Linked DNA regions of Homo sapiens: region 2 is linked to region 1. The links come from fine-mapping of genetic effects on gene expression. A gene starts in region 1. The other region holds a variant in brackets. All regions are shown on one strand. Distances are between the middles of the regions. Region 1 holds the start of GAS8-AS1 (GAS8 antisense RNA 1). Region 2 overlaps CDH15 (cadherin 15).

Region 1 (4,503 bases):
ACACCTGTACTACACCTCCTCACCTGTACATACCTGTAGACACCTGGTCACTTGCACCTACCTGCTCACCTGCACATACCTGCCCCACGTGCTCACCTCCCCACACCTCACCTGCACATACCTCCTCACCTGGCCACGCCTCCTCACCTGCACACACATGCTCACTTGCATCCACCTGCTCACTTGCATGCCTCACCTTTACACAGCTACACATGCCTGTTCACCTATGCAAACCTGTACACTTGAGGCACAGAGCAGGACACCAAGGCTGGGAGGTGAGGTGCATCCCCAGCTCATGGGGTATTAAGTGGCAGAGCTGAGTTGCAAACAGGCCAGTCTGCCCCCAGAGCCCATATTCCTTCCATGTTGTGGAGGCAGCATTTTAAACCCTCAGGACCTGCAGGGTCTCTCCCTCAGGCTTTTATAAAAAACACCTTTAAGGCTGTGACTCCCAAAGCCAAGAACAGAAAATGTCCCACCTGCACCCTCACTGGATCCAGCTCCTCTGGGGCTCTGTGGTGACCAGGTTAGCACGTGCAGGCCGGCCCCACTCACCTTGATCTCCACCTGGTGCCTCTCCTCGGCTTCTTCCATCTCCCGGTCTTTGTTCCGCAGCTCAGCCTTCTTCTCCTCCAGCTGCCTCCGTGTGATCTCCCAGAAGGTGTGGATCTTGTCCCGCTCCAGCTGGAAGTAGTTTCGTTCCTCCCGCTCGCGGTCCAGCTCCTCCCGGATGCGGCTGACATGCTCCTCCACCTGGCCAGGTGCAGTGGGTCAGGTGAGGCACTGAGCAGGGGCCCATGCACGGCAACGGGGCGTGTGGCCGGCGAAAGGCAAGGAAGAAAGAGGGAGGACTCAACTTCACCTAAAAATAAACAGCTAAATGTAAAAAGTTAAAATATAAGGCTAGGAAGCTCCGGAGACAGAATGCATTCAGCAGGTGGCAGAATTCTCTTCAATTTGGCCAATAATCATAAAATAACTAGATCCTTTCATCCATTCCTGAGAATTGATGCCTAAAAAATTTCTCAAAAGAAATATAAGAGCATCTTGCTCAAAGATATTACCCACACCATTATTACAACAGCAAAAATATCAAAAAGGAAATAACCTAAGACCAGTTTAAACAGGGAAATAAGCGAGGCGCGGTGGCTCTCGCCTGCAACCCCAGCACTCTGGGAGGCTGAGGTTGAAGGATCCCTCGCGCCCAGGAGCTGAAGACCAGCTTGGGCAACATAGCAAGACCCCATCTCTGCAAAAACTTTTTTTCATTAACTAGGCATGATGGCACGCACCTATAGTCTCAGCTACTGGGAGAGCTGAGGTGGGAGGGTCACTCAAGCTCAGGGGGTTGAGGCTGCGGTTAGTTATGATCATGCCACTACACTCCAGCCTGGGTGACAGAGTGAGAATCTGTCTCAAAAAATACACAAACAGCCAGGCATGGTGGCTCCCACCACTTTGGGAGGATCTTTTGAGCCCCAGAGTTGAACAGCCTAGGCAACATGGCAAAACCCTGTCTCTACAAAAAAAAAAAAAAAAAAAAATTAGCCAGGAGTGGTGGCACATGCCTATAGTCCCAGCTACTCAGAAGACTGAGGTAGGAGGATCGTTTGGACCTGGGAGGTCAAGGCTGCCGTGAGCCGTGATCACACCACTGCACTCCACCTGGGTGACAGAGCAGGACCCTGTCTCTAAACAATAAATAAATAAATATGGAAATGGTTGAAAAATTAGAGTATATCAACTAGGAGAAATATCACATTAACCCAAAAAAAATATGCAAATGATGTAGCAGCATTTAAACAAATTCATATCATAATGCTAAATGAAAAAAAATTCACCTTTGAAGATATAATGTTAAGCAAAAAATATACAAAACCAGTAGACTCTAAAATCTCAAGAGGGTTCAATTGCGAATCTGCAAATAGGTTAAAAAAAAATGTAGGACAGGCTTCCAGCTTTCTCGGGAGCTCATTTCCCTTAAGAATCAGTTACTGCCAGGCGCGGTGGCTCACACCTGTAATCCCAGCACTTTGGGAGGCAGAGACAGGCAGATCATGAGGTCAGGAGATCAAGGCCATCCTGGCTAACACGGTGAAACCTCGTCTCTACTAAAAATACAAAAAAATTAGCCGGGCGTGATGGCAGGCACCTGCAGTCCCAGCTACTGGGCAGCCTGAAGCAGCAGGATGGTGTGAACCCAGGAGGTGGAGCTTGCAGTGAGCCGAGGTCGCGCCACCGCACTCCAGCCTGGGCCACACAGCGAGATTCCGTCAGAATCAGTTACTTTTCGGGCACAGCCCCAGGCCACTTACTGTGAGCCTTTTTCTTTCTCAACACCACATTCCCCACAGGGAAAACACATTTCTCACCTCAAAAGAAGACAAGACAACGAGCAAACAAGAAGGAGCAGCAGGAGGGGTTCTGAGCCGAGGATGCCGGGCAGACATGAGGGAGACACGCACCCCCGAATCCAACCAGTGCCTCGGCACAACGACAAATGTCTTCACGTCACAGACCTTTAGAGGCTCCTGGGCAGAGCCTGAACCAGGGCTCCTGACTGGTCTGTTTGGCTCACATGGTGTTGAGATTTTGCCATCACTCAATATTCAGATTTCTTATAAATATCCAGATTTCCAGCTTCTCTTGGAAAATCAGAAAAAAACAGCACTGAACTCCTAGGCCCACAAGGCACTCCCCAGTGAACAGATGAAACTGTCCTCTGCTGCGGGGCAGGAGTCTCCAGGTCACCCCCATCCCTCCCCACCTGCCTGGACCCTGAAGAAGCCTTCTGAGTCTGTGGCTCAACGTGCGATGTGCAGTGCAAGGGCCTGCCCCGTAGCCTGCCCCGTAGGCTGCCCCATAGCCTGCCCCGTAAGCTGCCCCGTAGCCTGCCCCGTAGGCTGCCCCGTAGGCTCCATGGCCACTGCCCCACAAGGCCTGTCTCCACAGGAATGGGAAGCGGACAGGGAGACGGGCAGCAGCTCACATGCTGGGACAACGCAGTGTTCAATCCATTCTCCATCCAGCAGCTCCAGACATCTTTCCAGAACACAAACCTGACCCCATCACCTCTCTGCTTAGCCACTGGCTTAAACTGCCAATGGTTTGCCTGCATGTAAAATAAAGCCATTCTTTACCATTGTTCAAGGACCTCTGCCTAGCTCCAACTTCAGGTCATGAGACTCTTTCAGTCTCCTTCGTATTGATTTTTTATCTTACAACTATCAAAAGAAGGTAAGATTTATTAACAATAACACAGAGTTGACACAGCCCTCATGTCCCATGTCAGGTGCTCACAGGCAGTCGTCCATGAGGGCAGAGGCCAGAGGGTGCACCGTGCTTGCCACACACTGCCGTCTCCAGGAGCCTTTTAGGTAAAATTGTAATTATGTAATTATGTTCTGTAGCCCTTAACTACATCCAAATGAAGAAGAGACTTAAACTAACTCCTACAAAGAAACTATAAAAACATCACCTCCTCCCCAAAATAAGCAACAAGAAAAAGGCAGCCCTGATGCTGTTACTCCTTGTTGGGACTTTTATCAAAAACAATGAATGACTGGCCAGGCGTGGTGGCTCATGCCTGTAATCCCAGCACTTTGGGAGGCCGAGGCGAGTGGATCACGAGGTCAGGAGATCGAGACCATCCTGGCTAACACGGTGAAACCCCGTCTCTACTAAAAATACAAAAAAAAAATTAGCCAGGCGTGGTGGCAGGTGCCTGTAGTCCCAGCTACTCGGGAGGCTGAGGCAGGAGAATGGTGTGAACCCGGGAGGTGGAGCTCACAGTGAGCCGAGATCGCGCCACTGCACTCCAGCCTGGGCGACAGAGTGAGACTCCGTCTCAAAAAAAAAAAAAAAAAAAAAAAAAAAAATGAACGATTAATCAGATTCAGATGTGATTTGAAGTAAATCATCCTTCTTTCAAAAACTTCCTTTTTGACATAATGTTTAATGGTGAATAAAATAAAGGAGAATGCTACATGTGTGTTCTACGATAAGTCTATACACATCAGGTGCAAAAAAAGGGTAAGATTGAAAGAGAATACACGAAATTAAAAACAGCTTTTAGATCAGAAAAGCATGTCCTTCCACACTCCTACCACCCTGTTACAAAGCTCTTTCACAGGCTGCACTACCTTTCTGAAAAGACATGGTGCAGCCGAAAGCTTTGCCGCTGATGGGAATTATGGGCCACGCGGGGGGCGTGTTCTGGCTTGGACAGAAGGGTGGATCCACATGGCAAGATGGACACTCGGCGTAGGCACCCTGCGTGGTGCCCGCCCACGCCCACCCGGGGACTGGGCCACAGCCCGCTCTGCTCACCTGCTCCTTGCTCATGTCCTCTGGAGCGAGCCCATCGACAATCGGGGTGCCTTTGGCTTTGCCTTTCTTCCCTTTCTTTTTCGGTGCCTTTGGTGGAAATAATGGGGTAAGAGAGACTCTAACAGCTTCCCCTTCTTGGCTGGCTCTGATTTGCTCCCAGGAACATTTGGCAGA
Region 2 (4,256 bases), 830 kb after region 1:
AAAGGATCTTTTGTGACTGGCCTAAAGTAAGGAAACTGTCTGAGCCTAAAACACCTGCCCCAGCCACAGAGTGCAGCACAGGCATGAGAGGTCAAGAGGCCGGGCTGGGTAAAAGCTCTGCCCAGAGTTCCAGGTGGCCGAGGCCGGCCATGGACTGGTGTGGGAGGGCCCATATACTCAGGGCCAGCCACATGGTGTGTGGAGCTAGGTGCAAAATGAAATGCAGGCCTTGCTTCCAACGTATTCGAGATTTTAGGACGGTTCTCGAAATTGCAAAGACAGTGGACAGCACAGCAGTAGCTGAGCGTGGGCCCGAGTGGAGGTGGTCGGTGTGGCTGCGGCTCGGGGTCAGGATTCTAACATCCTTAGAATCCAAGCCAGGCTGGAATCAGGCTGCAGAGGACAGGTTCCCCCTCCAGGTTTCTCAGGGGGGCTGGAAAAGGAGGCTTGGAAAGTGGGTCCCCAGACAGTGGTGTGGTTCTCTGGGGAAGGGCCCTGAGTGGCCAGGGTGGAAGGCCTGGGGAGAGAGCCTGGGAACCCCTGTTCTTTGTCCCCAGATCTGCCAGGCTGGACTGTGCTGTTCCTCTCTGTCCTGGGGCTCCTGGCCTCCCGGGCTGTGTCCGCACTCAGCAGCCTCTTCGCGGCCGAGGTCTTCCCCACGGTGATCAGGTGAGCTTCAGGGTTGCCCGGCCACACAGCAGGGTCCAGGGCCTCTCATGGGGAGGAGGGGCCAGGTGGACAGGAGGCCCTGTCCCCATACCCCACCCAGGTTCCTGCCTGTGATTCCTCCATCCAGTAAGGACTCGGGGTAAAGCACTGCCCTGCTCCTGGATGGTGGGGGCCACTGCTCACAGAAGGCTCTGGGCAGACGGCTCAGGAACTGGGAAGGGGAGGGAAGGCCACGCAGGCCTGAAGCCAGGAGTGCGGGGTGGGGGCAGAGATGAGGAGGCCTCCAGAAATGGCAGAATTCTCGGGGAAAGCATCACTTTTCGATCTTCTTCTTCTTCTTTTTTTTTTTTTTTGAGATGGAGTCTCGCTCTGTCACCAGGCTGGAGTGCAGTGGTGTGATCTCAGCTCACTGCAGCCTCCAACTCTCTGGTTCAAGCGATTCTCCTGCCTCAGCCTCCTGAGTAGCTGGGATTACAGGCACCCACCACCACGCACAACTAATTTTTGTATTTTTAGTAAAGACAGGGTTTCACCATGATAGCCAGGATGGTCTCGATCTCCTGACCTCATGATCCGCCTGCCTTGGCCTCCCAAAGTGCTGGGATTACAGGCATGAGCCACTGTGCCCGGCCACTTTCCAGTCTTGAACAGAGCAAAAAGTGCTCCAGGAGAGGAAGGAGGTTTTTCCAAAACAATTTTTCAAATTATCCTCAGCCAGCAAACCTTAGGCTGTGCGGAGGCCGGGCCTTCCCCCTGCTCACTCTGGAGTCACATGTGTGTCCCCCAATCTGTTGCCCCACCAGCTGCCCCCAACGCACTCTCTCCCACAGAGGGGCCGGCCTGGGCCTGGTGCTGGGGGCCGGGTTCCTGGGCCAGGAGGCTGGCTGCCCCCAACACACTCTGTCCCACAGGGGGGCCGGGCTGGGCCTGGTGCTGGGGGCCGGGTTCCTGGGCCAGGAGGCTGGCTGCCCCCAACACACTCTGTCCCACAGGGGGGCCGGGCTGGGCCTGGTGCTGGGGGCCGGGTTCCTGGGCCAGGCAGCCGGCCCCCTGGACACCCTGCACGGCCGGCAGGGCTTCTTCCTGCAACAAGTCGTCTTCGCCTCCCTTGCTGTCCTTGCCCTGCTGTGTGTCCTGCTGCTGCCTGAGAGCCGAAGCCGGGGGCTGCCCCAGTCACTGCAGGACGCCGACCGCCTGCGCCGCTCCCCACTCCTGCGGGGCCGCCCCCGCCAGGACCACCTGCCTCTGCTGCCGCCCTCCAACTCCTACTGGGCCGGCCACACCCCCGAGCAGCACTAGTCCTGCCTGGTGGCCCTGGGAGCCAGGATGGGACCAAAGTCAAGGCCTGGGGCATGGCTGAGTACCCCAGACGTCTGGTCCAGGGCAGACACATTCCTCTCAGAAGCCCGTGTCTCAGTGCAGGTGGAGCCGTGGGGACAGCGTGAAGGTGTCTCCAGCCAGGCCCCAGGCACTGGGAGGCCCTGGGTCTCCCCCCAGCCACACCCAGTAGGTGTGGAGGATAAAGGCTTCTGTGGAACTTGGC[G/A]TCCTCCCTGGTTCTTCCCTCAGGCCACACCTGGGGCCTGGAAGGGTCTCACCTGTGCCTGCTCCCCACCTCTGGGCTCACCAGCAAGGAGCCAGGGTGTCAGCGGCTGCTCCATAGCCCCTGTCCAGGTAGTGGCAGCCCCCGGCCGCCTCCTGCCCCAGCCAAGCAGGGTGGTATGGGGGCCTGGCCCTCAGGTCCCTGCCAGGCCAGGCCTCACTGGCCCCATCCCCCTCATGGTCAGTGTGGCAGTGGGCGCCCGTCCTGCATGAAAGAGACTAGCACGTTTTTCATTCAGATTTACCCAGGAGGTTGCTGTCTTTCATACAAAGATGAGGTTCACTGGTAGGAGGCAAAGGTGGGACTAGGGAGGTGACCCGCATGGGGCCGATGGAGAGAAACTCTTCCCACCCCGGCAGGAAGGGGCCTCTTCCTGGCCGCCCCATCCACACTCAGGTTCTGCCCCCAGACTTGGGCCCTCGCCTACAGGAAGGAGGCTGCCCCAGGCCCAGGGGGGTCGGGCCCGGTGACCTCAGGCTGCCTCTGCAGGGGCCATCACTGCCACGAGGCCGGGGAGTGGCATGTCCAGTTGCGCCCCAGGGTCAGGCTGTCCGGCCTCTGTGTCTGGGTAGCAGTGCCCCAGGAGAAAGACCCTCCCTGGCCTGGTGGTCCCATCTGGCCCCGTACTCCAACCCGCACGGGTGCCCATACATGTCTGCCAGCCGGGCGAAGCGGGGCCCCCAGTCTCTGAGGTAGTCGTAGTCCTGGTCCTCATCGCCCTGGCTGGACAGGATGGAGCTCAGCGTCCCCGCCACCGAGCCGTCACCCTCGTAGTCATAGATGAGGGCTGTGTCGTAAGGCGGCACACTGGGGTCACTATCTGCAGCCTCCAAGCCCTATAAAGAGGCCCGGAGAGCTCAAGACACATGGAGGGGCCAGCGGGTGCCCCACCGCCGTGGCCACAGCCCAGGGCAAAGTCAGCTCAAGGCACGGGCTCAGGAAGGGGAAGCTGCCCACGTCCGGGGGCGAGGTCTGAGGGGAGGCAAAGCGTCCTGAGGGCACAGCAGCAGGGTTGTGAAGAGGGTGCCACGGACTACCCCCTTCCTCAGTATTAGGCCAGCGGCCAGCCCGTCCCCCGGGGCTCTGCCCTGCCCCAGCAAGGTGGGAAGGGGTTGCTCCCCCTCACCCTGGTCTCTTCCTCCCCGTGGCCCTTGTCCACTCAAGGCAGAACCCGAGCCTCCTGGACACCCCCATCCGCAGAACGGCCCGTCTGCCTTTCGGAGGCTCTGTCTGCATGTCTGTCCTCTCAGCTCGTGGGGACACACGCTCCTAACCGGGGGTGTACACCTTGGCTGGGGGCTTTCTCTGAGCCAGGTGCTACAGGTGCAGACAGGCACAGAGGAGGGTTCCCTGTGCGCCCCACACCCCAGATTCCCCGTGTGCACATTCATCCTGTGGATGGCAGGGAATCATTAACGCTGTGTCCAGAGGGTCTTCTATGGAGGCCCTGATTCCGCTGACAGCCACCGAAGCCCAGGGGATGCTCCCGGGGCTCCCCCACCCCCTCCATGGTGGACACGGGGCAGTGGATGGGTCTGTGGCCATCGCCACTCCATCTGTGCAAAGACCCGCGTCGCGGGTGGAGGCTGAGGGCCCAGTTTGGACGGTGGCAGCGGGGCTTCCACACTCCCGCCCGCACACCATCTTCCTCTGCGGTGCTCTGGGACGGCCCATAAGTGCATGCAGGCGCCGGTTCTTGCATGCATGTGCAGGTGTGTACATGTGCATGTGTGTGTGCACCTGTGCGTGCCTGTGTGTACTGGGGTGTCCCCAGGAGCACCTACATCATTGATGAAGTCGGCGATGTCCAGGGGGCTGGTGGGCAGCACTCGGGGTGGCTGGGGGTGCAGGCGGCCCTGCGGGGCATCTCTGCGAAGTGGCGGCGGTCCCAGAGGCAGGCTCAGCGCTGTCGGGTGACGCAGCTGGCTGATGTCGTAGGCGTCCTGTGGGCGAGGAGGTGGAACAGAGCCAGGCATCCCTCGGGTGG

The links. PIP is the estimated chance that this variant, and not a neighbour inherited with it, causes the effect.
Region 2: its variant is the best candidate, but not a certain one, in a credible set for the expression of GAS8-AS1 in gastroesophageal junction (GTEx, PIP 0.70).

What each region holds. Positions count from the first base shown.
Region 1 is chr16:90,027,549-90,032,051 of GRCh38, reverse strand. GAS8-AS1 (GAS8 antisense RNA 1) reads left to right here and starts at 2,151. Exons shown (of 1, transcript NR_122031.2): 1 at 2,151-3,153. It overlaps DRC4 (dynein regulatory complex subunit 4), which reads right to left. Exons shown (of 11, transcript NM_001481.3): 2 at 4,330-4,416; 3 at 556-753.
Region 2 is chr16:89,193,711-89,197,966 of GRCh38, reverse strand. CDH15 (cadherin 15) reads right to left here. Exons shown (of 14, transcript NM_004933.3): 13 at 4,054-4,212; 14 at 2,475-3,105. The coding sequence ends at 2,812. It overlaps SLC22A31 (solute carrier family 22 member 31), which reads left to right. Exons shown (of 9, transcript NM_001384763.1): 8 at 558-669; 9 at 1,662-2,206. The coding sequence ends at 1,968. Among named protein-coding and RNA genes, the nearest start is that of SLC22A31, 4.7 kb to the left of the region's middle. RefSeq lists an enhancer at 3,529-4,194. The variant G/A (reference allele first, on the strand shown) is at 2,213.